Linked DNA regions of Homo sapiens. The protein of the gene in region 7 interacts with the protein of the main gene of each other region in a biochemical or structural test. Each region holds a gene or a part of one and is shown on either strand. Other genes may lie near its edges.

What was found.
Region 1: the proteins of DAPK1 (region 7) and TBC1D22B form a complex in vitro, tested with the Homo sapiens proteins (one large-scale study listed by BioGRID and IntAct).
Region 2: the proteins of DAPK1 (region 7) and NECAB1 form a complex in vitro, tested with the Homo sapiens proteins (one large-scale study listed by BioGRID and IntAct).
Region 3: the proteins of DAPK1 (region 7) and AHDC1 form a complex in vitro, tested with the Homo sapiens proteins (one large-scale study listed by BioGRID and IntAct).
Region 4: the proteins of DAPK1 (region 7) and CAPRIN1 form a complex in vitro, tested with the Homo sapiens proteins (one large-scale study listed by BioGRID and IntAct).
Region 5: the proteins of DAPK1 (region 7) and SH2D2A form a complex in vitro, tested with the Homo sapiens proteins (one large-scale study listed by BioGRID and IntAct).
Region 6: the proteins of DAPK1 (region 7) and SNX9 form a complex in vitro, tested with the Homo sapiens proteins (one large-scale study listed by BioGRID and IntAct).

What each region holds. Positions count from the first base shown.
Region 1 is NC_000006.12:37,285,272-37,288,771, reverse strand, and holds part of TBC1D22B (TBC1 domain family member 22B), read right to left. Parts: intron 1,766-3,500; coding exon 1,700-1,765; intron 1-1,699. UniProt on the Homo sapiens protein: May act as a GTPase-activating protein for Rab family protein(s).
Region 2 is NC_000008.11:90,955,775-90,959,893, forward strand, and holds the end of NECAB1 (N-terminal EF-hand calcium-binding protein 1), read left to right. Parts: 3' UTR 1-3,232; coding exon of another isoform or gene 3,233-3,256; 3' UTR 3,257-3,619; downstream 3,620-4,119. Other genes in the region: uncharacterized protein C8orf88, read right to left, coding at 3,233-3,256.
Region 3 is NC_000001.11:27,601,345-27,605,345, forward strand, and holds the start of AHDC1 (transcription factor Gibbin), read right to left. Parts: upstream 2,801-4,001; 5' UTR 2,762-2,800; intron 2,520-2,761; 5' UTR 2,384-2,519; intron 2,151-2,383; 5' UTR 2,053-2,150; intron 1-2,052. UniProt on the Homo sapiens protein: Transcription factor required for the proper patterning of the epidermis, which plays a key role in early epithelial morphogenesis. Directly binds promoter and enhancer regions and acts by maintaining local enhancer-promoter chromatin architecture.
Region 4 is NC_000011.10:34,054,731-34,058,230, reverse strand, and holds part of CAPRIN1 (caprin-1), read right to left. Parts: intron 1-3,500. UniProt on the Homo sapiens protein: mRNA-binding protein that acts as a regulator of mRNAs transport, translation and/or stability, and which is involved in neurogenesis, synaptic plasticity in neurons and cell proliferation and migration in multiple cell types.
Region 5 is NC_000001.11:156,806,849-156,810,348, forward strand, and holds part of SH2D2A (SH2 domain-containing protein 2A), read right to left. Parts: intron 2,960-3,500; coding exon 2,813-2,959; intron 2,643-2,812; coding exon 2,355-2,642; coding exon of another isoform or gene 2,289-2,354; exon of another isoform or gene 498-2,288; coding exon 330-497; 3' UTR 327-329; exon of another isoform or gene 1-326. UniProt on the Homo sapiens protein: Could be a T-cell-specific adapter protein involved in the control of T-cell activation. May play a role in the CD4-p56-LCK-dependent signal transduction pathway. Could also play an important role in normal and pathological angiogenesis.
Region 6 is NC_000006.12:157,896,246-157,899,745, forward strand, and holds part of SNX9 (sorting nexin-9), read left to right. Parts: intron 1-581; coding exon 582-753; intron 754-3,500. UniProt on the Homo sapiens protein: Involved in endocytosis and intracellular vesicle trafficking, both during interphase and at the end of mitosis. Required for efficient progress through mitosis and cytokinesis. Required for normal formation of the cleavage furrow at the end of mitosis.
Region 7 is NC_000009.12:87,700,367-87,703,866, reverse strand, and holds part of DAPK1 (death-associated protein kinase 1), read right to left. Parts: intron 839-3,500; coding exon 650-838; intron 1-649. UniProt on the Homo sapiens protein: Calcium/calmodulin-dependent serine/threonine kinase involved in multiple cellular signaling pathways that trigger cell survival, apoptosis, and autophagy.

The DNA.
Region 1 (3,500 bases), on a different chromosome or scaffold from region 7:
ACCCCCCAACCTCTTTTTTTTTTTTTTTTTGAGACAGGATCTTGCTCTGTCACCCAGGCTGGAGTGCAGTAGCACGATCATGGCTCATTGCAGCTTTGACCACCTGGGCTCAAGAGATCCTCCCTCCTCAGCCTCCCAAGTAGCACAGGCACAGTAGCACAGGCACACACCACCATGCCTGGCTAATTCTGTAATTTTTTTGAGACAGGGTCTTGCTATGTTACCCAGACTGGTCTCAAACTCCTAGGCTCAGGCTGGTCTCAAACTCGTGGGCTCAAGCAATCCCTCTGGCCTTGGCCTCCCAAAGTGCTGGGATTATAGGAGTGAGTCATCACGCCTGGCTGAGAAGCCTTTTAAACTGACTACTTTCCTCATCTCCAAATTCAGAGTAAGCATGCACAGGTAAAAGAAAAGTCTCTGAACATCTCCAAGTTAAAATGAGGAATAAGCAGTGCTGAGCCATGGAAAACTGTATGGGAGGATAAAGGGATCATGAATGGGTTTTTAGCTTCCTGTGAGCTGAATCTTATAGTTAAAATAATGATGTTACCTTCAAAATCTTCTTTATGCTATGGGTAAGACATGAGGGACCCCACCAGTGGAGACATCTATATTTAAACAAAATTATAAATATAACCCAAAGTCAAATAGAAATTATTTTCAGCATTTTAACCACCATCCCTCTCTACTATGAGAACTGAAAGTTCCGTTAAAAGAGCACTAGTACTTAGTGTCCTGGCTACTGTAAAGTTGCAAAGGAAATCCCTAATCTTAAGAAGTTTACAGTTACTGCTTGAGTCAAAACATAATAGCCCCACTGACACCTTCCATGTACTTCATTAACTTGTTAGGTCTCAAAATATAACTACTACTCCCACTTCTAAATATATACCCAAAAGAATTTAAAACAGAGACTCAAACAGATATTCACATACCCATACTAGCAGCAGCATTACTCACAATAGCCAAAAGGTGAAAGCAACCCATGTGTCCACTGATAGATGAACAGCTCAACAATATGTGTTACATATGTACAACGGAATATTACTCAGCCTTAAAAAAGGAAATTCACACATGCAACAACAGGGATGAACCTTAAAGATATTATGCTAAGTGAAATAAGCCAGTCACAGAAGGACAAATATTGTATGATTCCACTTATTTGAGCTGCCTGGAGTAGTCAAATTCTTAGAGACAAATAGAATGGAGGCTGCAGAAGAGAGTTAATATTTAATGGATACAGAGTTCCAGTTTGGGAAGATGAAAAATGTTCTGGAAGTGGATGGTGATGATGGTCATACAATAACGTGACTGTACTTAATGCCACTGAACTGTACACTAAAAAATGGTTAACACAGTAAATTTTATATTATGTATATTTTACCACAATTTAAAAAATCACTACTTCCAGCTTGATAAAGTAGAGCAAATACAGGAATAGGAATTCTAAGATGTGGGTTCTTCATTCTGCCACCAGGTAGCCTCAAAATTCTGAGCAAGTTCCTTAGCCTTTCAAAGTGTTATTCCGCTCACAGATTTGTAACAAAGATCAAATGAAAATGTATGAAACCATGCTCTGAAGGAACCAAAGCTGCATATATGAACATAAGGTACTATTATGATTAGCCGCAAACCTGTAAACAGGTGCCACAGAACTATGCGGGGAGAAGCGCCAAAGAACATTAAGTAATTCCCTCACCTCCTGTACAAGTGGTTGCTGGAACAACGGAATGAGAGGATTCGTCCTTGGAATGTCAATGTGAATCTGAAAAAGAGAAGGCATGTCCAAAAACACAAATGCCAGTTTTTTTTTGTTTTTGTTTTTTTGAGATGAAGTCTCGCTCTTGTCCCCCAGGCTGGAGTGCAATGGCACTATCTCAGCTCACTGCAACCTCTGCCTCCAGGGTTCAAGCGATTCTCCTGCCTCAGCCTCCCAAGTAGCTGGGATTACAGGCACCTGCCACCAGGCCTGGCTAATTTTTGCATTTTTAGTAGAGACGGGGTTTCACCATGTTGACCAGGCTGATCTCGAACTCTTGACCTCAGGTGACCCACCCGCCTTGGCCTGCCAAAGTGCTGGGATTGCAGGTGTGAGCCACCGTGCCTGGCCCAGTTTGTTCTTTTGACAATTTTTTTTTAAAGAAATGGGAATCATCTGGCTGGGTGCGGTGGCTCACGCCTGTAATCCCAGCACTTTGGGAGGCCAAGCCGGGCGGATCATGAGGTCAGGAGATCGAGACCATCCTGGCTAACACGGTGAAACCCTGTCTCTACTAAAAATACAAAAAATTAGCCGGGCGTGGTGGCGGGTGCCTGTAGTCCCAGCTACTCGGGAGGCCGAGGCAGGAGAATGGTGTGAACCCGGGAGGTGGAGCTTGCAGTGAGCCGAGATCGGGCCACTGCACTCCAGCCTGGGCGACAGAGCAAGACTCTGTCTCAAAAAAAAAAAAGAAATGGAAATCAAAGTAGTAAGAAAACACAATTTATCTTCAGAAAGAAGTGACTGACACAGGAAAAAAATCTAGTTATACCTACCTGCCCATGTGGAACATGTTTCCATGACAACAATAGCTTATTAAACAGTGAGGAAACCTCCCAAAAGAAACCACTAAAGTCAAATGGCAATAGGCTTCACAGATTAAGGGTTTTTTCTTATTGCTCTGAAGTCTGTTTCACTCTGGGCTGGCATGTATGTAGCAGGTATGATCCAAGTAGGTACCCATCTTTCAGAATCTTACTCATCAACAGTTCCTAAGAACTAGAAGAGCTCAGAAAGCTGCAAAAATGTCCTAAAATAGGGAACCAGAGATGAACTTGCTTATGAAGTCATGATGTGTAAGAAGCGGGGAAGGGCCAGGGCGATGGCTCACGCCTGTGATCCCAGCACTTTGGGAGGCTGAGGCGGGTGGATCACTTGAGGTCAGGAGTTTGAGACCAGCCTGGCCAACATGGTGAAACCCCGTCTCCACTAAAATTACAAAAATTACATGGTGGCTCATACCTGTAATCCCAGCACTTTGGGAGGCCAAGGTGGGTGGATCACCTGAGGCCAGGAGTTCAAGACCAGCCTGGCCAACATGGCGAAACCCCATCTCTACTAAAATTACAAAAATTAGCTGGGTGTGGTGGTGTGCGCCTGTAATCCCAGCTATCCAGGAGGGTGAGGCAGGAGAATCGCTGGAACCCAGCGGACAAAGGCTGGAGCAAGCCGAGATTGCGCCACTGCACTCCAGCCTAAGTGACAGAAAAAGACTCGGTCTCAAAAAAGATAAAGAAAAAATTAGCCGGGCCTGGTGGCACATGCCTGTAATCCCAGCTACTCAGGAAGCCGAGGCAGGAGAATCACCTGAATCCAGGAGGTGGGGGCTGCAGTGAGCCAAGATCACGCCACTGCACTCCAGCCTGGACGACAGAGTGAGACTCCATCTCAAAAAAAAAAAAAAAAAAAAAAAAAAAGTGGGGAAGGACCAAAAGGAGTTGGCCTTCAGTAACTGAAGCTG
Region 2 (4,119 bases), on a different chromosome or scaffold from region 7:
AAAATCCTAATATGTGGAAAAAAGCATATGCATAAAGGAATAATATTGTGAAAATGAATCTGTTATGATAAAGAAAAAATAAAGTGGAAACTTTTAGAGTATTACTTCATAGGGCAGATTTTGTAAACTGTCGTATACTGTAAAGGGTTAAATCAGCGTTTTGTGATTTTTAAGTAACTGTGAGTGAAGTTTATTCTTCAACAATGTCTACTCCATCCCCAACCCAACTCACAGCCCTATGACTACTATCTTTGCATTAGTTAAAAAGTTAGTATATAGGCATCAAACAACCTTGGCTGTAACCTATAGAATCTCTATCCACGTATCAGGTTATAGACTGGTTTTTCAAAAGTGAACAATCCTGTGATAAGTTGGAGTACCATTTAGTAATACAGCAACATTGTGTCATTTATTAGCATCATAATTCTTTGTTATGTAAGTTAAATATATCAAGAAAGAAGAGACTGTTTGGAAAAATGTGGTTCAAGTTTTATGCTATATAGTTTTGGTATGCGATACAGACAGCTAACTTTTCTTATGAAAAATACATATTTGCATGTAAACAATGATTTCAAAATACTTGAAAAATAAAATTTTAACCCAAATGAATAACTAAGAAATATAAAACAAGCACAAAATCTTAGGGAAGTCATAAAATAGTAGTGAAAGTATTAGACAGAAGACATCTGTTTTCGAATTTCAACACTAGAATGACTAAAACTATCTACCTATAGAACTATCTGTAGATAGTATACTATCTACACTCTGCTCAACAAGCTCAGAAATTAAATATTTTTAATAATAAAAATCTGTTCTGGTTATAAACCTTGCTAATGAAAATACAATACATATAAAAATGTATAGCCATGTTATTTTCTAGTATAAATTCCTTTGAAACTATAAGTCTTTGAGGAAAATTATAAGGTAAAATTTTCCTGTTTTTCCCCCTTTGAAAAACTCAGGAAAAAAGGAAGATTGAACTAATAAAATTTTATTTCTTAAATATAAATTTGACCTAAAATATTTTCTCAAACTAATTCATGAAACAGCAACTTTTACCAATACCTTTGTATACTCTCAGTTCTCATTCAGTATAAATAAAATTTTAAAATCCTTTCATAGTTCTATTAGAAATAAGTAGTAAATTTTGATATATTGTACATACACACGTGTGTGTGTGTGTGTGTGTGTGTGTGTGTGTGTGTGTGTGTATTTGTGTGCCTCTGGTCAACTCTAAGGATGACAGACACTGTGTAACAACACCTGGGTCAACTCTTTTAATTTATATACAAAGCAAAGAACAACATTAATGGAGATGCACAATGATTATTCAAACAAGCTATATATATGTACAAAGGCAAACAGACACATAACAGTCTCTGCAGACTGATTGTATATAGTAAGAAAAGATCAAAAGACTTTAAAACCTAAATGACTTTTGACATACAAACTCTTCTTGAGAATGTTTGTTGTAAATGGTTTCAAAAATACAAATTATAGCCAATCAAAACATTGCTTTGGTTGGTGCATTTAAGTATCCAACTCAAAAAGCATATCAAATATTTTGGGTACTAGGCAGTTTCCAAAGTAGCATGGTAGTATTACTTGTTAAAAGGGTTCTGTTTTCATTAACAGTACTAAGTGGAAGGGATCTGCAGATTCCAAACTGGAATAAGCTCTATCATATTCTGAAACAAGAATTAGAATGACTTGAGAACGGGCAAATAACAAAGCAAACCAATATAATTATATGGTCATTCTGACCCCAGCTCTTATACAAATTATACATGTATTTTTGTGTATGTTTGTGAGAGTTGTATGTATGTGAATGTGTGTGAGTGTGTATTCACATACACATATATACTGGAACCTATAGTAGAAAAGGAAACTAGTAGGGCCAAAAAAAAAAAGAAAAAGAAAAAGAAAAAAGAAAAAAAAAGAAAAAACTGGGACCTAAGTATAAATATCTCATCCTAAAGTAAACAATAAGTTTATAGTTAACGAAGATTTTTTTCTATTTAAAACCCCATTTTCCTAAAGAACAAAGTAGTAAAATAAAAAAAAATTTAAAAAATTAAAAAATAAAAAAAAGAGGTCACTAAAAGACCAAGATGGGAAACGTAACATGGAATACAAGCTTGAATCTGGGAAACAAGCTCAAAAAACAGTGAAAAAAAAAGTACTGGTTTAGGAGTTCAAAATTCAGTGAAACAAACTTTTTGCCAATAGACCTAGGGATCTAAGAAATAGAATTAGGGAGAGTTTACACTTACTTACCTATATATCAGCAGATTTTTCTGGAAGAAACCCTTTTTTTTTTTTTTTTTAAACAGTAACATCCAGAGTGACAAATTGCAGGAGATTTAATGTATAAAATTTCTAGGAATTAAAAGCTTAAACCCAAAAATTGTTCATCCATATATAAGAAATTATCGAATTAAAACTTAATGTATGTCAATTATTTTCAAATGTCTAAATTCCTTTGGAAATAAAAATATCAGTTTTACTTTGAAATTGCTCAACTTCTGCTATTCATATGGTCTGATTAGTGACATAAGTAGCAGCCGTTTTTCAACTTCAGTTTCATTCACTACCATTGTTTCCAAATTATCAATCTCTGCTAGTAATTATGAATTTAAGACCATATTATTATCAAAAACCTAGAGACCAATCATATATCTGAAAAGAAATACCCATTAAAAATTCTGCCTCCTGTTTATTGAGAACTATGCATTGAACATTCTGAATCATTCTAAGCCTCTGGAGAGACTGTAATGATCCATTCATGAGCTGGTATGAAATCAGTGGGAAGCAGAACAACAGAAGGAACTTTAAAAGCAACAAGCAATTATGTACCATATATACACTGTAGCAAATATTTTATATTTGAGAGTCTTTACAGCTTACATTTCCATTCCATTATTACAAGTGATGAAAAACAAAAAATTGCAAGTAGTATGCAAATTATAAATATACAGTCTTCCCACTTCACTAACCAAATTCCTACTTTCCAGTGTTACTTCCCAATTTATGCAGGAAACCTCCTGCAAAGCTGAAACTGATTAGAAAATTCTTTATATTTTAAAATAGCTCTTTCTCATTTTTAGAGAAGTCAAATAGCCAACCATCAAAATTAAGAATAAATTGAATTGTCACAGTCCATTACAGTTATTGTTGCTAGATCCACCTCATTTGCAGATGTCCAAACTTAAATTCATCTGTTCTTAAAATGCTACTTAAAACTTTGGTTGTTTTCCTGTAATATAAAAGAAAAAGTTAATTTATCAATTGATTGAATACAGTTTTTACTAATTAGTTTATCAAACCAAATACTGTGAACGTACCAGGTGTTTACAGATTTAAATGCATGTTACCATAGAAACTATTAAAGTAACTAGAACTGTCAAATAACAAAACGGCTCATGTTTTTAAAATATATGTAACTCATTTTAAAATATATTAAATTGTATTCCAAACCTGTTCTTCTGTTTCTGTGGCACCTAGGTTTAAAATATGTATTAATGTGTAAATCACAAGTAAAATGAATTCTAATGTACAAGTTTGTTTTAAAAAGTGTATGTCAAGCTTTTATTTACACAATAAAATGTTATTAAAGATGGAAAGTCTACAAATGAAAAAGTGACTATAGTTTATATAGCACTGAAGTTTACATTTATTCTTACAGACCATGGATTACATATCCCAAAGATCTTTGAACCGGTGGGAAAGTTGAAACATCAAGTACATTTTTTCTTATTTAATATTTATGCATGAGAAGTATTATAAAAAATTTTAATTCCTGCTTTAATTAACTTTAAAAAGAATTGGCTAGAGATCTAAAGTTAGGGAGTTTAAGAAATATTAATATAAACTATGAACAACATAATGTTTTTTAAAAATTATAATTTGAGGAAAAAAATACTATGAATTCCAAAGAATTAGAATACCAAAAATGGAGATAGAAGGTAGTAGTGTTTATCTCCCATTCGAACTGTTCTCAGTATACCTATATTCTGAATCTCATTTCAGAAGAGTCCTAGCTGCCTTTACCTATATAAAGGTATTTACGAAAACTCTAATAGGAAGTTAAATTCCAGTCAAATGTAAGTAGAGACCACA
Region 3 (4,001 bases), on a different chromosome or scaffold from region 7:
ACACCTTGGGCTTGTGGGTGATTCCTGGGGAGGGGGCAATGCCTGCCCACCTGGGCATCTGCCCCAAAGCCAGATGAAGAAGGACAACTCACTGGTTTGGGCTGGTAGCCACTGGTCCCCCAAAGCTTATGCCCTTACTGGTCTTTGCAACCCCTGAAGAGTGGGAGCTCTGGGGCCAGAAGTTCACCAGTCTCTGGGGATTACTCCAACTATTGACACAGCAGGAGAAAAAAATGAATTCAACTTACTATCCAGTTTGATTTTCCATTACTATAAAAATAAATATACATCTGCTCAAAGGAGGGAGATGGCAAGCAGCATGCACATGCCACCTGGGGGGTCCCCCCACAACCCAGCCTTCCTACCCCCCCACCCCAGGTTGGGGGACAGACTGGTAATCTTTCACTTACAGCCCCAGCTCACACAGCCACACAGAACAGGAACAAGCCAACAATAGAAACACCCCAAATGCCCCTGGCAGGACTCTGCCCAGGCCCGGGCACATGCCCCCGCCCAGCCGGCGGCGACAGCAGCAGCGGACAAAATGTGGCCACCCTGACCCGGAGGCAAAGCTTGTCCTCACACCCTGAGCTCTGCCCAGGGAGCTGGGGCCAAGTCCCGCCTGACACCAACTGGTCCGGCGGGAAACGCCTGCCCAGCCAGACAGGCACAGGCCCCCCAAGGGTCCCTCCTTGTGCTCAGGGACCAGGCTGGTACAGTCCGGCCCTGCCTCCCAGGGTGACGCCTGGGCCCAAATTCAGCTGGCCCTGCCAGTCAGGCACTGGTGCAGAACCGAGGGCACCAGGCTCAGCCCCTCCCAGCCCAGCCCCAGGGCCCCCAAGCTGGGAGGGAGGGGAGACTCCCCACCCCTCCACATCTGGCCCTGGCCCCCAGGGTCTGCGGTAGAGAATTCCCGCCCCCGCTTCTCTCCCTCCTCCCGCTCTGTGCCCGCTGCCCGCCTCAGGGACAGCCCCAGCTCCCGCCTCCGGCCAGCAAGGCCCACATCCTTCCTCCCTCAGCTGGCCCCTTCGCCTGGCAGGAGGCTGGGGGGTCAGGCTGCTGGGGAACCCCCCCAAGCTCCCATCAGTCCTCATCCCCAGCCCCCAAACTCTGGGTTGCTGTCCCTTTTCCTGTAGAACAGGAAACAAGGTTATTTCCTAGACTCAGAGCCAGCCCCCTGCCCCTCTGGCTCTGCCCGGGGACCCAGACCCAGCAGGGGAAGGCGCCCTCAAGCAGCGAGCAGAGATTCAGCAATTCACCCCAGCTCCCTGCCTAGGGGGCTGACAGCTGTCACTCAGCACCCCACCCCCTGGGGAAGAGGGGGCCGATTCAATCAGAGCCCCAGAGGAAACGCATTGATAGGCGATTATTTATTTATTTATGCAAAAGTGAGCCGACTTTGTTCGCCAGGTAACCGGGCACGCGGCCCAACCCCTCCAGCCCTAGCCGCCCCCAAATCCCTCCTCCGCCCCACACCCCCTCCGGGTCATTAGGTCCCCGCCCCTCAACTCCCCGAGAGCCAGTGGATCCTAGGGATTTGGGGGTTGGAGGGGAGGGGCTCCTCCCTCCGCAGTCTCCCCTTTTCCCAGCGCCGATCCTAAAATCCAGCCTTGTTCTCCGCTCCCACGGTCCCCCCTTCATTCCCCCCCCCCCCACATTCTCAGCAAGCTGGAGAGCAAATTGCAGTTTTAAATCCAAAGGCGGAGGGAGGGGGAAGGAGGAGGGGGCGCGCGGCAGCGCTGGGCGCGCACCTCGCCCCCGAGCCGGGGGAGCCGCGGGGCGGCCAGGAAACCCGAGAACCCCCCCTCCCCGCCCCCCCTCCCCGTCCACCTCCCCCTCCCCCTTCCCGGCGCTGCCTGCCAGGCTTCGAGCCGAGCCCAGCCGAGCCGCGGGCCCCGGTGGAAACAAAGACCGATCGCACCGCGGGCACCGCAGCCACCGGGTCCAGCGGACCGGACCGGGGGACGCAGGCCCCCCCCGTGCGCTGCACAAAAGAGCCTGGCCGGCCGGTCCCCAGCGGGGGTCTGGGGCTGGGGAGGAGGCGCCACTCACCGGAGTGCTGGGCTGCCGGCTCCGTGGGTCCGAGCCAGGCGAGGGGTTTTGGGGGACGTCTGTCTTCCGGCGGTGGCAGCGACGCGGGCGCCCGGCTGCTGAGGAGAGGAGTCGTGGAGGAGCCCTGAGCCGCCCGCCGTCGCTGACAGCATGGCTCGCGCCTCGGCTCACATTCTCCGCCGCTAACTCCGCTGGACACGGCCCCCCGCTCCCGCGGCGCCCCCCCACCTCGATCACTCCTTCGCTCTCTCTGCGCCCCCCTCGCCCTCCCGCCGCGCACACACTCTCCCAGCCCTGGACACCCCCGCCCCCACCCCCCCCAATAGCAAACCTGGGAGGGAACGCGCCCCGCGTAGTCCTCCTGCTCCTCCTCCTCCGCCCTCCTCCCTCCCGCTCTCTCTGGCTGTCTGTCTGTCTCTCAGACTGTCTCTATTTCTCGCTCTCTCTGCCTTTCTCTGCTCTCCAAGCTGGGTGGGAAAAGGAAATGAGGACAGAAAGCAGACGCTGGCTTTGGGTGGTGGTAGCTGGATTCCCTCTCTCCCTCCCTCCCCCTCCTCCCCTCCCTCCTCCTGCCTTCTGCTCTCTCCGCTGCGAGCGGGGCTGAGCGCAGCCTGGCGGGTGGCTCGCTCTGCCCGCCCGCCCGCCTGTCTGTCTGTCTGGTCCGCCTCGCTCGCTCCCTCCCTCCGTCTCTCGCCCTCGCCCTGCCTGCCTGCCTCTCTCCGTCTCCGCCGCCGCCGCCGCTGCCTCTGCGAGCTCGCCTTACCTTCGCCGCTCACCATCCGGAACCCCAGGGGGGAGCGCGCGCGCGGCACGCCGGGACTTGTAGTCCCCGCCCCGGCCGCTCCGCGCGCGGGGAGGGCGGGGCCGCGCCGGCTGCTCCGACGGCGCGGCCAGGAGCCCCGGGGACCCCGCGCCTGGGGCTCGTCTGGCTGGAGCGCGTCCTCGTTTACCAACGGGCGAAGATCCTCCCCAAGGGTTAAGAATGGTCCCTGTGTTCCTTGTCTCCACCGGGGGGCTCTGGATCGAGCGGAGGTTGCGGGTGGGAGTGAAGGGGCGGGGTCTGAGAGTGGAATGGGAGTGGAATAGGGAACCAGGGGATTAGCCAAAGGGGCTGCGACTTTCTGGGGCGTCCCAATTAAATGGGAGGGGGAGAGGGCAGAGGAGAGGACCGGCTCTCTCAATCTGGGGACGTTATCCTTTTCTGAAAAGGTTTCTTATTGAGTAAAGCTCAAGTATATATGGCGGGAGGGCTGCTGGGGCGGGGGAGCGGGGGAGACCCAGCCAGCGCTGCTTCCTCACTCAGTGACCCCTCCTCTCAAACTCCGACCTCGGTTTCGCCCTTGCAACTCCCAGCTTTCCTATATGTCCAAGGGCGGCGAGGGCTCAAAAGTCCTGGATAATCCGCAGATAGAACACACACACCCTTTTCCGAATTCTGCTGAGCATTTGCGTTGTGTCAGGAAGCAGGATTCAGATTGAACGGTGCTGACCTCCTGCCGCGGCCGGGGGCTGGGCTCAGCACTTTCACCTACCTCCTCTTCAGGTCACATGTGTTCTCCAGCCCCTGCCTAGCCTATCCCACAGATGGGAATGTGCGCTGCTTGGGGGCCTTGTTACCGCCCCCGGAGATGGCTGAACTGCTGCGGTAAAATAGTGCTGTTATTTCCATTTTAGAGATGGGGGCACTGAGGTCCAGGTTCTCCAGTTAGCAAGTGGCTGAACCCAGCTGGATTTGAACCAGGGTCTGACTAACTCCAAACCCCACAAGCTTAACCCCTGGGCTATGACAAGGAGTTGTGACTCCCTCCATTTCTGTAACTGACCTTCTCTCCCTGTGTCTGTGTGTCCTTTCTTGGCACTTCAACAAATGTTAACTGAGGTATGCAGGGCTTGCAAGGGACACGGAGATGAATAATGCATAGTGGCTGTCGTGTCCTGTGTCCTAGGTG
Region 4 (3,500 bases), on a different chromosome or scaffold from region 7:
CAGGAGGCAGAGGTTGCAGTGAGCTGAGATTGCACCACTGCACTCCAGTCCTGGGCGACAGAGCAAGATTCTGTTTCAAAAAAAACTGCGAGAATTTTGGAAATCACCCATTCCAACCTAAGTCATTCCATATAAACATCTCAATTTTGTCTTCTATAAAATGAACTGGACTAAATTCTAAGGTGGTTTAAGCTCTAAAAAAAAACTCTTAGGCCGGACATGGTGGCTCATGCCTATAATCCCAACACTTTGGAGGCTGAAGTGGGTGGATCACTTCAGGTCAGGCGTTTTGAGACCAGCCTGGCCAACATGGTGAAATCCCATCTCTACTAAAAATATAAAAAATTAGCCGGGCGTGGTGGCGGGCGCCTGTAATCCCAGCTACTCAGGAGGCTAAGGCAGGAGAATAGCTTGAACCTGGGAGGGGGAGGTTGTAGTGAGCCGAGGTCATGCCATTACACTCCAGCCTGGGCAACGAGAGCAAAACTGTCTCAAATAATGATAATAAATAAAAATTAAAAATCCTCTAAATTTTATAACAGTGTAAGATTATAGCTATGACAAAATTGCTATAAGTTTAACCTTTTGCAAAAGTATTGCAAAAATTAACACTTTTACTAAAGGAAAAGTGTTAGTTTTTCTAAAAGATGAAACAGTACTAGTCTTCATCTAGCCCTAAATGTAAACTAGGAAATTAATTACATAAAATTTTGGCAAATTGTATGCTTAATCTGTAAGTCACACAAAATGCATTCTCAAATATCTGCCACATGGGTAGTATCCTAGAGTACACTAATTTGGCCACGTTAAAACAATACATTCTCAATGTAATACTTAGGCTTCGACTCTCACCCTAGAAAAAGGTACCCATTATCACTTGGGGGAATTCACAGCTTTAAATACTTCCCAGTGCTACACATACAAACACACACAGTCAAGCAAAGGGAAACAAATTAAGCATTACAGCTTTTTTCTATGACAAGGTGAATGCAAAATAATCTTGCCCTCTGCATTGCAGAAGAATAGTTCTTGCAACCCATGGAAAAGCAAACACATCAAGAGATCTTAAATGTCAAAGAAGGCTTCAGGTAATAGCCTCAAGGAAAGATTTTACTTATAAAATAGTTAAGAATGTTTTTATTTTAAAACACTGAACACATAAGTTCTGCACAACAGCTGCAATGAAAATTCTAAGCACAGACACACTGCAACGTTCTAGAAAGAAATGTTACCCTCACAACAACAGCATTCTTTTTAAAGAATACTACTAACTGCAAAGATGAAGTGCAGAAAGCCTTCAGGAAAAAGTATTAAAAACACTACACTTCTGGCTATCAGTTTTGGTCACTTAGTGGTTAAAAAGCTGTCAGGCTATTTTTGCATTTTACGCAAGTGATCATTAGTTAATCTTTCACCTACCAAAGTCACTAGAGTCTAAACCTATTATATTCACAAAGAATATAACAATTTTAAATGTCATCTATTAAAACATCCTTTATTCTATATCACAACTGATTACATCTAATAATATCAAATGAGGTCTCTCTTCAGTTAAAATTAAGACTTGGTTTTGAAATATCTTGCATAGCCTAGGGCCCAGTTCAGCACCAATGAACTGATAAAGAAAACTAGGCAGTTAATCATTCAATTCAATATTACCTGTAAGATTTGCAAATGGATTTTACACTTGATTATCACAGCTGTATTTCTTCTCTTTGCTAAACATTCATGTACTCTTTATAAGCCTGAATTTAAAAACCCACCAAGCCTTTTAGTTGCATTACATAACACGATCATATTTCATCAACATTAAGAGCATGCATTCTCAATGAGCAGATGCTTAGCTTTTTCTTTAATGGCTCAAATTATTAGGAAATAAACAACTTTGTTTTTTAAAGTACAATAAAATTATTTCAATTCTCTGTTTTAATTTAAGCAATACTACATATCCATAGTCATTTTTGCCAGGATATTTGATTTTAAAATCCATAAAAAAAGCATTTTGGTCCAGAAGGCTCCGATAAGAATAGGTCAAGATTGAAATAAAGCTCAAATGTAAGTTGCTAAATGGACTGAAGTCAAAACAAATCTAATTGTAAATAGTACCTCACTTTACTCCACAAGGGTTTCTAAAGAGGAATTCAAAACTGATTTGTAAAGCAATCCTATTTTAGTGCATTAGAAATGCTCACTTATACTTAAAAACAGTTAAGTCTTCTCACAAGTAAATCATCTAAATATAAAAAGGATTTAAACTAAAAACCAGATGTGCTTAAATTTAGGGCAAATCCAAATGCCCTGGGTTTTTCAAAGGGCAAAAGATATAGTTTTAATAGCAATTAAGTCAACATCAATACTGCCAACTTAACTACTTAACATGTAGGTAGAGTTCAGTCTGTGGCTTATCAAAGTCTCAAGACTTAACTGTAACTTGACCTTTTTGCTGCTATCTACCACTTAAAACACTGAGAAGACAGAAAAAAAAGTTACTTTGTGCAGTTTGTTGAATCTCCATTATTAACACGGCAATCTTTCAGTATGTATTAGCCTAGTTAATAACCTATGTAATAATTACATTATTTTCTCCTTTATGACTTTAGGGGAGGCCCGGCATGGTGGCTCACACCTGTAATCCCAGCACTCTGGGAGGCCGAGGCGGCTGGATCACCTGAGGTCAGGAGTTCTAGACCAACCTGACCAACAAGGTAAAACCTGTCTCTACTAAAAATACAAAAATTAGTTGGGCGTGGTGGCAGGTGCCTGTAACCCCAGCTACTCTGGGCGGGGGGCCGAGGCAGGAGAATCGCTTGAACCCAGGAGGCGGAGGTTGCAGTGAACCGAGATCACATCGTCGCACTCCAGCCTGGCGGACAAGAGCGAGACTTCTCAAAGAAAAAAAAATTGCCTGGGGTGGTGGCGCACACTTGTAATCACAGCTACTTAGGAGGCTGAAGCGGGAGGATCACTTGAACCCGGGAGGTGGAGGTTGCAGGAAGCCAAGATCATCCTACCGCACTCCAGCCTGGGCACTCCAGCCTGGGCAACAGAGATTCATCTCAAAAAATAAAAATAAAATAACAAAATCACTTGAGGGTAGGGTATGACAGAGTATAGTAATTCACATACACCTATACACATTTAATGACCAGTCATGGTTCAAGTCCTCAGGAGGGGCTTATAAACTAGATTTATATTTTTTTTTCAGAAGTACTTGAACACTAGATTCTAACAGCCACCTCACAACTAAATTGGCTGCCAATCAGCACCTACCTTTATATTAACTTCTCTGAGGAGTTATCTTTCAGTCATTAATGTCTCTACACTTTATATCACTAATCATTAATGTTCATAATTAGTATTAACACATTATTAATGTTCACAATCATTAATATTTTATGTTCAATTACTGTCCTAGAAAAAAACATTTCCAAGAAATTCTAAAGAATCAAAAACTCAAGTAGCAGCCAGATCAGCAGGCTTGCTTACTGCATTAAAATTTT
Region 5 (3,500 bases), on a different chromosome or scaffold from region 7:
TAAGGACAAATGTAATGCTGCTCATCCTCCCGCTCTTACCCGTGGCAGACATCACTAATCAATCATGTGCTTTTTTTCTGCTGAGTTCAGATATGACCTTAACATCCTTTCCAATGCAGCACTCTAGGCAGCCACGACCAATGGATTGGAGTTGGCATGCAAGATGACACCTCTTTGCCATCCTTGCAATAGATGATGGCTGAGCTCCTTTCCAGCTTTGAACACCTATGGTTTATTCCATCCACATTTCTTGAGAAGTGTGCCAGGTGTGTGTGAAGGTCTCTGGACCTGATGCTCCAAGTTATCCTCACCAAGCTCAGACTTACCGCCTACTGAGGAGGCCCAAGGGGAAGCCATGCCTGTCCTCTGTCCTGAAGCACCTGTCTAGAAAGATTGTGGGGGAGGGTGTGTCTCCAGGCGGGTGGGGGCTGGTGGGGCAGGGGAGGGCCTTGCCCAATCACAGAGTTCTCAGAATGCAGCTGGGAGCCACCTGTATTCTGCAGAGAGAAGGACAGTTCTAGGTCACACCCTCTACCCTCTGCCTCCTAGGTGTACTTGCAGTCTCAAGACATCTGATCTGAACAGACTTTGGCTTCCAGAGAGGGTATCTAAACTCCTCTCATTCATTAATTCAACAAACATCTCCTGAGCACCTGCTCTGTGCCAGGCACTGGGCTGGGTGCTTTGGAAACAGATGGGTAAGTCCCAGCCCCTCCCTTCAGGGAACTCACACTCTAAACTAGGGAAGGGACAGAGAGAAGGAGATGGGAGGAGATGGATGTCTCAGGTGATCAGTGGCATGGCAGGTGTGTGTAAGGCACAGGGGGTGGCCTCTGAGAAGGGAAAGCTGGTCTTGAAGGATGATTAGAAAGTTGCCAGGCAGCGGGAGGATGAGGTTGCAGGAAGTTGCTATAGGCAGAGATACTGGCGGGTGCAAACCCCAGGAGGCTTGAAACCACTTGGTGAGTTTAGAGAAATGTGAATCATTCTAGGAGAATGGGAGTGGCTGGTGGTAAGGCTAAGGAGGTGAGACCCCCCACCCAACCCAAGTCTAGAGTGCTTCATGGGCCAGGCAGCTGCTTCAGCAAGACCATTCTGGCTCTTTGGTGCAGAGTGGATCAGAAGTGGCAAGAATGGTGGTTAGGAAACCAGTTAAGAAGCTCTTGGGAGCCAGGTGAGGTGGCTCGAGCCTGTAATCTCAGCTGAGGTGGGAGGATCACTTGCACCCAGGAGTTCAAGTTTGCAGTGAGCTATGATTGTGCCACTGCACTCCAGCCTGGGTGACAAAGCCAGACCCCAATGATGGGGGCTGGAGCTGGGGGAAGGAAAAATATACTTAGGAAGAGATCCAGCAGGAATGAGTGGCTTACTGGGGGAGTAAAGAGGGAGCTGTGCTGAGGGAGCCCTGGGATTCTGGCTTGGCTAGCTGGGTAGCTGGAGAGTTAGCAATCAGGACAGTGAACATGGGACCGAGCTGTTTGGAGGGCAAGGGTGAGAGCGCTGTTGGCCGTGTTGAGTTTGAGGGGCTCAGGGATGCTGGGGGGAACTGACCAGAAGCTTGGAAAAAAGTTTGGACGGAGATATGGACAGGTGACGTTAGCTCTAGGACAGCAGACGTTGGCAGGGGTGTGGGTGAGCGCGAGCAGGCTCAGGCTGAGCAGGGAGCCTGGGGCACCAGCAAGGAGGGAGGATGGGGAAGGGTCTGAGGAGGGAGGCTGGGGAAGGGCTTTGGGAGGGCCGCAGAGGCCGAGGGAGAGGGTGGGATGGCTGCTGGGGCTAACCCATGGCATGAGGTACTGACTTGAAGGGTAGGCAAGAAGACTTAGGGCTGGGGAGAAGGAAGAGGGAGACAGGGAGTACACAGAAGCAGGCTGGGAGAGCAGGGTCCCCCTCCCCTGAGCTCACTGAGATGACATAAGGGAACCCAAGTGCTCTTTTTCTCCAGGACAGCAGGGCCGTGAAGGCCAAGGGAGAGAGCCAGAGAGGCACGGGGTGGGGTCAGCCCCAGGTGCGTCTGAAGAGGGCCTGCAGGACAAGATGGACGCAGATCAAAAAAGCCTCGATGTGGGAGGTGGAGGGGCACCCTGCCTGGGGGCCTCTGTTTTCTGTGTGAGATAGGAGGGCATGGGGGCTTGACAAAGATGAGGTCTGAGCGACTCTGGGGAGAAGAGGGGGCAGCCTCTGGGCCTGGAGAAGGGAGGCTGGTGCCTGGATCATTCTGTTCTTCCCACATCACCTCACACCTCTGCCCCTTACCCTGCCCCAGGCATCCACTCTGAACACCTTCTTCACCTTCCCCCATCTACCTGCAGGGAGACCTTCTTGCACCTACCTTTCCCTGCATACCCATTTACCTGGCCTCCTGGGACAGGCCTGGACCAGCTCTTCCGTAGGACAGGGTGCCCAAGGGTGGCGGGTAGGCCCTCATCTTCCACTTCCACATAGATGTTGCTGGGGGCTTCCCCAGGGCTGCCCCGGCCCATGGCATAGAAAGCTATGGGTTCATCAGGCTCATTGTAGATAGGATTGGAGGGCTTGGGGCGTGGGGCCGGGCGGTGTCGTGGAACAGGGATTGTGTAGACTTCTGGGGGCAGCTGAGGTTTGGCGGGGATGGGAGGCTTGGGCCTGAGCAGCTGGGAGGGCTGGGAGAGAAGGTGAGGCCAGGGAGGAGTGGGGTGAGGGAGGCAGGGTTAAAGCCCCAGCCTAACTCCCAGCCTGAGCCTCTGCCCCCGCTAGGCCCCTCCTCCTCCCCGCTGCCTGCACCCCCTCGCAGGCCTGTCCTCCCACTCCCTCAGCCCCTGCAGCCCAATACCTCCTTCTCCCCGGCCCCCTCTTTCTGCATCGGGACTGGGGCTTGCCCCTGTTTGATGATTGGGCTGTACTGGGGGTTTGGGTCCTGGCTTTTGCTTCCAAAGTTTGATTCTTCGGTCCTCAGGGAAAGTCCTGCAGGCTCAGGAGTCTGCTGGGAAAGAAGGAGGTCTGAGGCACTCGGTGGAGCGTTGGGGTGGGGGAGGTGATCAGGAGGACAAAATAATCCAGTCTAAGTGGAGGATGGGGGAAGGGGGAGGAGCACAGAAATTTGGCCTGGGCTGGGTTCCCTGGATGAGGAAGAGGGGGTGGTGACGGCAGGGAGACCCAGGGTTGGATGGAGGCAGTGGTAAGCTCTGGTCACAGGCCATATCTAGCATTAAAGTTTTTCTTTTTTAAGATAGAGTCTCACTCTGTTGCCCAGGCTGAAGTGTGGTGGTGCAGTCTCAGCTCACTGCAGCCTTGACCTCCTGGGCTCAAGCTATCCTCTTGCCTCAGCCTCCCAAGTAGCTGGGACTACAGGCATGTGCCACCACACCGGCTAATTGTGTTTTCATTTCTTGTAGAGATGAGGTCTCACTATGTTGCCCAGGCTTGGTCTTGAACTCTTGGGTTCAAGTGATCCTCCCACCTCAGCCTTCTTGCGTCTTAGGATTACAGGCGTAAGCCACCACACTTGGCTGCATTAAACT
Region 6 (3,500 bases), on a different chromosome or scaffold from region 7:
TGCATATACTTTTATTGTTTGAATTTTTTTTATTATACATGTATTCCATTTCAAATTAAAAAGCCTACTTAAAAATACAACAGATCGCTATAAAGCAGTTAGAAATAGGTCCTCATGTTGAGTGGGAAAAAGAAAACTTGCAAAGAGATACATACAGTATGACATCCTTTAGGTCAATTTTAAAAATATAAAGCAGTTGTTTGTGAATGTGTACATGTGCAGCTGAAGTATGAAAACACACATAGGAATGGATACAGGTTCAGAAAAGTAGTGGTTACTTCTGGAGAGAAAGAAAGAGAGGGCTGTAGCTGCATCTAATAGTTTCTTTGTTGCTGTTTTCAAAGTTCCTAAGCAAATACGGTAAAATGTGTTCACATCAGTAAAATTAGATTGATGCTACCTTTTGTGCTTTCCTACATGTTTGGAAATTAAAATATTATGTATGTAAAATTGTTTTGAATACATTTCTATTAATTGTTTTTAGTACTCCTGTTGTATTCAATTGTGTCAGTTCATTATTGAATTGAGTCATGGTTTCCAAAAGTCACAAAAATTCTCCTTCTTTTTACCCCTCTCAATAGGTTGGCAGTGGCAATGACCCCTGGTCAGCCTGGAGTGCCTCCAAATCTGGGAACTGGGAAAGCTCAGAAGGCTGGGGGGCCCAGCCAGAGGGGGCTGGAGCCCAAAGAAACACAAACACTCCCAACAACTGGGACACTGCCTTCGGCCACCCCCAGGCCTACCAAGGACCAGGTGAGGAGAGGGGTGCAAGGTCCCACCCTGCCCGCCCATGGCTGAGTGGGAGAGACAGGGAAGACCGAACTGTTTTTGCTGTTCCCACACTCAGCACAACACAGAACAGTTTTGTGACCACAGCATGGGAAGGGAGGATTGCCCCACCCACCAAGCAGCTGTGCAGCAGACACCAGCTGAGTGTCCTACAGTCATGACACTGTCTACCTGGAGTCAGATCAAGGGGGTTCCCACCACTCCCACCTTGGGTTCAATTAATCTGCTGGAGCGGCTCACAGAACTCAGGGAAACACTTTACTTACTACTGTCAGTTTATTACAAAGCTCAATTTACAGGATGCAAATAAAGAGCCAGATGAAGAGATGCATAGGGCGAGGCATGGGGAAGGGACGCAGAGCTTCCATGCCCCCCTGCCCCAGGTGCCCCTACATGTTCAGCACCCCAGAATCTCTTTTCCTGTAGCTCAAGGATTTTTACGGCGGTTTCATCACATAGGCATGATCGATTATTGTTATTATTATTCTTTGAGACAGAGTTTTGCTCTCGTTGCCCAGGCTGGAGTGCAGTGGCACAATCTCGGCTCACTGCAACCTCCGCCTCCCAGGTTCAAGTGATTCTCTCACCTCAGCCTCCTGAGTAGCTGGAATTACAGGAGCCCACCGCCCACCGCCACACCCGGCTGATTTTTTGTATTTTTATTAGAGGCAAGGTTTCACCATGTTGGCCAGGCTGGTCTCAAACTCCTGACCTCAGGTGATCCACCTGCCTCAGCCTCCCAAAGTGCTGGGATTACAGGTGTGAGCCACCATGCCTGGCCGGCATGATTGATTATTAACTCAACCTCTGGCCCCACTTTTCTTTCCAGAGAATGGGAGGTGGAGCTGGAAGTTCCAAGCTTCTAATCCTGGCTTGGTCCTTCTGTTGACCAGCCCCCATCCCACCAGGAGTCACCTCATTTGAACAAAAGATGCTCCTACCACCCGGGAAATTCCAAGGGTTAGGAGATCTGTGTCAGGAGCCAGGGTCAGAGACCAAATATCAGAACAAAAGATACACCTTGCACACCTAACATTCAGGAAGTTACAAGAGTTTTAGGAGCTCTGTGCCGGGAACTAGGGACGCAGACCAGATGGCTATTTCTTACCTCACAATACCACTCTGGGTCATTGAGTTGAAAATAGATTTTATTCAAAAGAACTGCTTGCAGTTGCCCTTATTCACTAGTAGCAAACCTGGATTCAATTGTAGATGGTCATTAACTCTAACTTTAGTTCAGTCTTACTTATCTGTGTGAAGTCACAGATTCAAACGCTGGGTTGGTAAAGTAAAAGCAGAATGGGCGGTGGAGGCTGCAGAAGGCTGAGGGCCCCTGCTGTCGCCCGTGGATCACTGCATTTGCAGGGAAGCTGAGCCCACGTTCTGATCTCCACATCTTCAGAGAGATGAGAAGTCTTGGTTATTTGTCACCTTCTGATTTTAACATCTCAGCAGCTAACACGTTTGTTTTAAAATCTTGAGCCAGAAACGTGTATGTGGATGGGATGTGGCTCATCCTGCTGGTTTAAGACCTCTGCATTCACTGTTTTAACTTCCTGTTTGACTAGGCTATGAATAGAAATACTGAGGCAGAAGAGAAATGTGTGGAATGGGAAATAATTTGGGAATTAAGGGTATTTATGTCTGATCTGAAATTAAATAAGAAGGTAGTCTCCCATTATTTTTTAACAATTCCTGAACCCTGTCTCCTCTGTAAGCACATTGGGCCAAGAATTGAATGTCTGTTCTAAACAGCAAGGACCTCACTTGTAAGCCCAAAGCAGGGTGCAGGTCCCGGCTGAAGGCTGGCAGTCATAGACAGGAGCTGCCTGTCAGCAGGACCAGGGGTGTGGGCTGGGTAGAAGCGTTGGGAGACTCCTGGGGTCTGGCTCTCTGGTCACTTGGCCCACATCCTTCTCATAGTTTGTTCTTCTCCCATTTGGCATTTGTCTCTCGGCTTCTCCATAATGGCACTCTTAGGACCTGACACTAAAGGACACTCAGGCCGTTAGAGTAGGGGAGGAAGGAGAAGGAGGAGAGCCCACAGGGGAGGAAGGAGAAGGAGGAGAGCCCACAGGGGAGGAAGGAGAAGGAGGAGAGCCCACAGCACCTTATCTGACACGGGGATTATTGTCAGAATAGTAGCTACTGATGCTGCTTAATTACTTCTTCACTCTCATCTTTTTCTCCCACACCCCAACTCGGTCTTTTTAATGTCCCCCTCGTTGCCCTTCTCTCCCCTTTATTGTTAGTGTTAAACAGCTGCTTTTCAAAGTTCTGTCGTCCCTTTCGTCCTCCCCAAGCCTCTAGAATTAAAGGGTATTCTGCTTATTTGTAAATGTATAAGACTAGATTTATCAGTGTCTAGGCCTCTAGAAGTCTTTTCTACTGTGTACCACTTAACATTCTTACAGTCTGCATTTATCTGAAGTGATGTGGACTGACAGCCCTTTAAAAAAATTATCTATATTTTCACGCCTGTAATCCCAGCAGTTTGGGAGGCCGAGGCAGGCGGATCACAAGGTCAGGAGATCAAGGCCATCCTGGCTAACACGGTGAAACCCCATCTCTACTAAAAATAGAAAAAAAATTAGCCGGGTGTGGTGGCAGGCGCCTGTAGTCCCAGCTACTCGGGAAGCTGAGGCAGGAGAATGGCCTGAACCCAGGAGGCGGAGCTTGCAGGGAGCCAAGATTGCGCCACTGCACTCCAG
Region 7 (3,500 bases):
GTTCCTGGGACAGGCATATGATGCCATTAGAACAGGGTTTCCAAACCGCGCCCTGGTGCTCAATGTCACAGAACCAGAGCAAAGCCTCCCATTCTCAATCATTTCTGCTGGGCATTGCTTGCTAGAGTTTTTTAATGTGCATCTTTAATTATGATTACTCTGTGTATCTGTGCACCAGAGTTCTCTGTCTTTGTATCTCCAGACATTGCCTCCACAAGGACACCTCACTGCCTTTTCTCAACTGTTTTCCCACCCAGGAGATCTGTGTGGAGCTGATGACTCCACGCTGATACAAAGAAGCCATCCTGAAGGCTGCCAGGAGTAGCAGATTAAGTTCCTGGTGCCCAGGGGGAGTGAAGAGAGACCCAGTCACCCAGGGCAGTGGGCACTGCACTCCCAAACTAACAGACTCTGGAAATAAAAGCAAAACACGACAAGACAAAATGACAGCTCCTAAGGTGAGCCGAGAACTGCAGTTCAGAGCGTCACTTGAGGCTGTGTTTGTCACACGTGTGGAAATGTTGTAGGTTAGCTGGACCATTTCCACACTGCTTCCCCAGGCTCACACCACTTCCAAGAGCTGGAATTTGGGACAGGCTGAGTCCCTGGCACCTCTCACGGCCCCCTGCCTGGGCTCCCAGGGGCTCACCTCGCCTGTGCTGTGGAGCTGCTGAGCAATGCGCCTGAGGTCCTCCTCGCTGGCCAGGGGGTTCAGCTGGTCCTGCACGTCGTACACAAACTGCTGCAGCGACATCAGCTGGTTGGGTCCATTGAGCTTCCTCCAGGAAGGCAGCGTGGAGATGATTTTCTCACACAGGTGAGTCATGGGAGGACAGACCTAGAGGGGGCAGGGCCAGACAGGTTAACTCACCTGCAGCTGTGGGTGCCCTGAGCAGAGCCACAGTGGAAAGGACACCTTTCATTCAGGCGCCTTGCAGGTGATTTGATGAACGAGTGGGTTTTTTTGTTGTTGTTGACGTTTTTTTTTCTTTTTTTAGACTGGGTCTCGCTATTGCCCAGGCTGGTCTCAAACCCTTGGGCTCAAGTAATCCTCTTGTCTCAGTCTCCTGAGTAGCTCCGACTACAAGTACACACCACTGTGTCTGGCTAGTTTGTGTTTTTTGGGTTGAGTACTGGGGCAGTTGTCTTTTAGACTTGCTTTTAAGCCTCATCTATTGCTCAAATATAAAGTTTTATAAAGGCTCTTTAGTTCATGTTAAATAGATTTTGAGTCTTCTAGGAACGTTTTTGGAATTGTGGACTCAGTCACTCAATCAACTAATGTTCACCAACTCCTAATGTTTCACTCCCTCACTTTTTCCTCCCTCCCTCCTTTCTTCCCTCGCTCTCTCTCTCGTGACTGTTTCACTCAGGCAATGATCACTTTATGAACAGAGGAAAAGAGAATGAGTATCATCATCAATATTAGAGTGAGTGTTTACCAGTAAATTAGGCATTCGTGGGGACTGTTGTTGAAATATTGTTTCCAATTAGACCCATTCTTGGTATGTAGGCTGAAGTGGATTTTTAACCTTTTAACTTGGTTAATTAGATCAGCATATGTTACAGACTCACGTAATCCACATACCTCTGAATTAGAAACCACATAAGCCACAGGCTACACCGTGCCATTAATTCCGCACTCCCCTCTCAAATTCTTTTGTGTCAGCTAAATTCCACTCTGCATTCAAAAACAAAATTCTCAGGGGTGAGTGCAGTTGATGTGGTGGGCTCCACCTGCCTGAGCTCAGGAGTTTAGGGGTTGGGCGGGGGGTGTCTGAGAAGCAGCAGATCATGCCAGAGCCCAGCTCAAAAATCTCCAGGGACACTCCCTCCTGCCTCAGGAATGCAGCCTCAATCCAGACCTGGTGGGGAAGCACAGGGGCCCTCAGAGACCACTGTTAGTTCCCAGATCACCGCCCCTGGTTTCTGTGACAGATTCCTCCCAGGCCTCACCGGACTACCCCCTATCTTCTGATGATGCCACAGTGGGACCCCAACGAGGATATCTGGTGTGAAGGGCAGGGTTTTCTGGAGACAGGAAAGGGTTTCCCGAGAATTCTGGAAGCACATCTAGAACCAGAATCTGGTGCGGGAAGCACAGCATTTTCTTATTAGCAAAGCAGTTAAAAAAAAAAAAAAAAAATACACCCAGAGGCAGCTTCAAAGGTAAGAGAGGGAGACAGGCATCTGCCCGCATTTGTCCTCAGGCCTCGGCAGCAGGAAGACTCCAGAGTGAATGCCACCACTTCTCCACTGGGACGCTCGCCCTTTTCTTACCAATTCCGGAGAGCTTTTTGAACATTACGGTGTGACCATTTATCTGTCCAAAGCATTGAGAATGCTTTTTCCCAGCCTATTTCACCTTTCAACTTTGTTTACTTAATTTGTTTGCTAGAAAAAAATTTTAAAAATTTTTACATTTTCAAACAGGTATATTTTCTTTTAAAATTTCTAGGGTTTTAGATCTTGGTTTAACAGGTTCCCTCAGTCCCTAGTTATTTTGAAAATACACTCTCCACAATTTCTATTCAAGGTATTTATTGTTTCATGTTTTTACTTAAAAGCTTTAATCCATTTATTTTTGGACTTTGTAGGGTGTAGGAATCCAACTTTATTTCCTTCCAGACAAATAGCCAGTTGTGCCAGGTTCATTTATTAAATAATCTTTACCCCATTAAATTCAAATGACATATTTATTTTCCATTATATTTCTAAAGATATTATGATTTACTTCTATACCCTCTAAGCTTTTCCTCCTATTTAACTGTATTGATTATCAGGGGCTTTATAATAGGTTTAATGAATTTTTCCATGGAAATTTTAAGATAAAAATCCCAATCCCCTCAACCCATTCAGATGCTAACTGAAATTGTATTACATTTATATAACTAGGGAAAAATAAAATAGTCATATCTTGCAACCCAAGAATACAGTCTCATTCCCTTTGTTCATTTATTCTTTTCTGTCTTTCAAAAAAGTTTGTGACTGTTTTTCTACTTTTCTGAATTTTCTAAATATTCCACAATAAGTCACTTTTGAATTTTTTGGTTTTTTCCCAAAATTGGCCAGGCATGGTGGCTCACACCTGTAATCTCAGCACTTTGGGAGGCTGAGGTGGGAGGAGCACCTGAGCCTAGGAGTTCGAGACCAGCCTGGGCAACATAGTAAGACCCTGTCTCTACCAAAAAATCAAAAAAATTAGCCAGACATGGTGGTGCGTGCCTATAGTCCTAGCTACTTGGGAGGCTGAGATGGACAGATTGCTTGAGCCCTGGAGTTCAAGGTTACGGTGAGCTATGATCACACCACTGTACTCCAGCCTGGATGACAGTGTGAGATCCTGTCTCTGAAAAAATAAAATAAATAAATAAAATATTGTTAAAGAAACCAATAAATCGGTAAGAATTTCATAAAATTGAAGTGGTCCACCTTGCCCATAATAACCCTTCAGCTCCCATCATCTCCTTGTTTCTCTATTCTTCCTTTCTTTTCCCAGG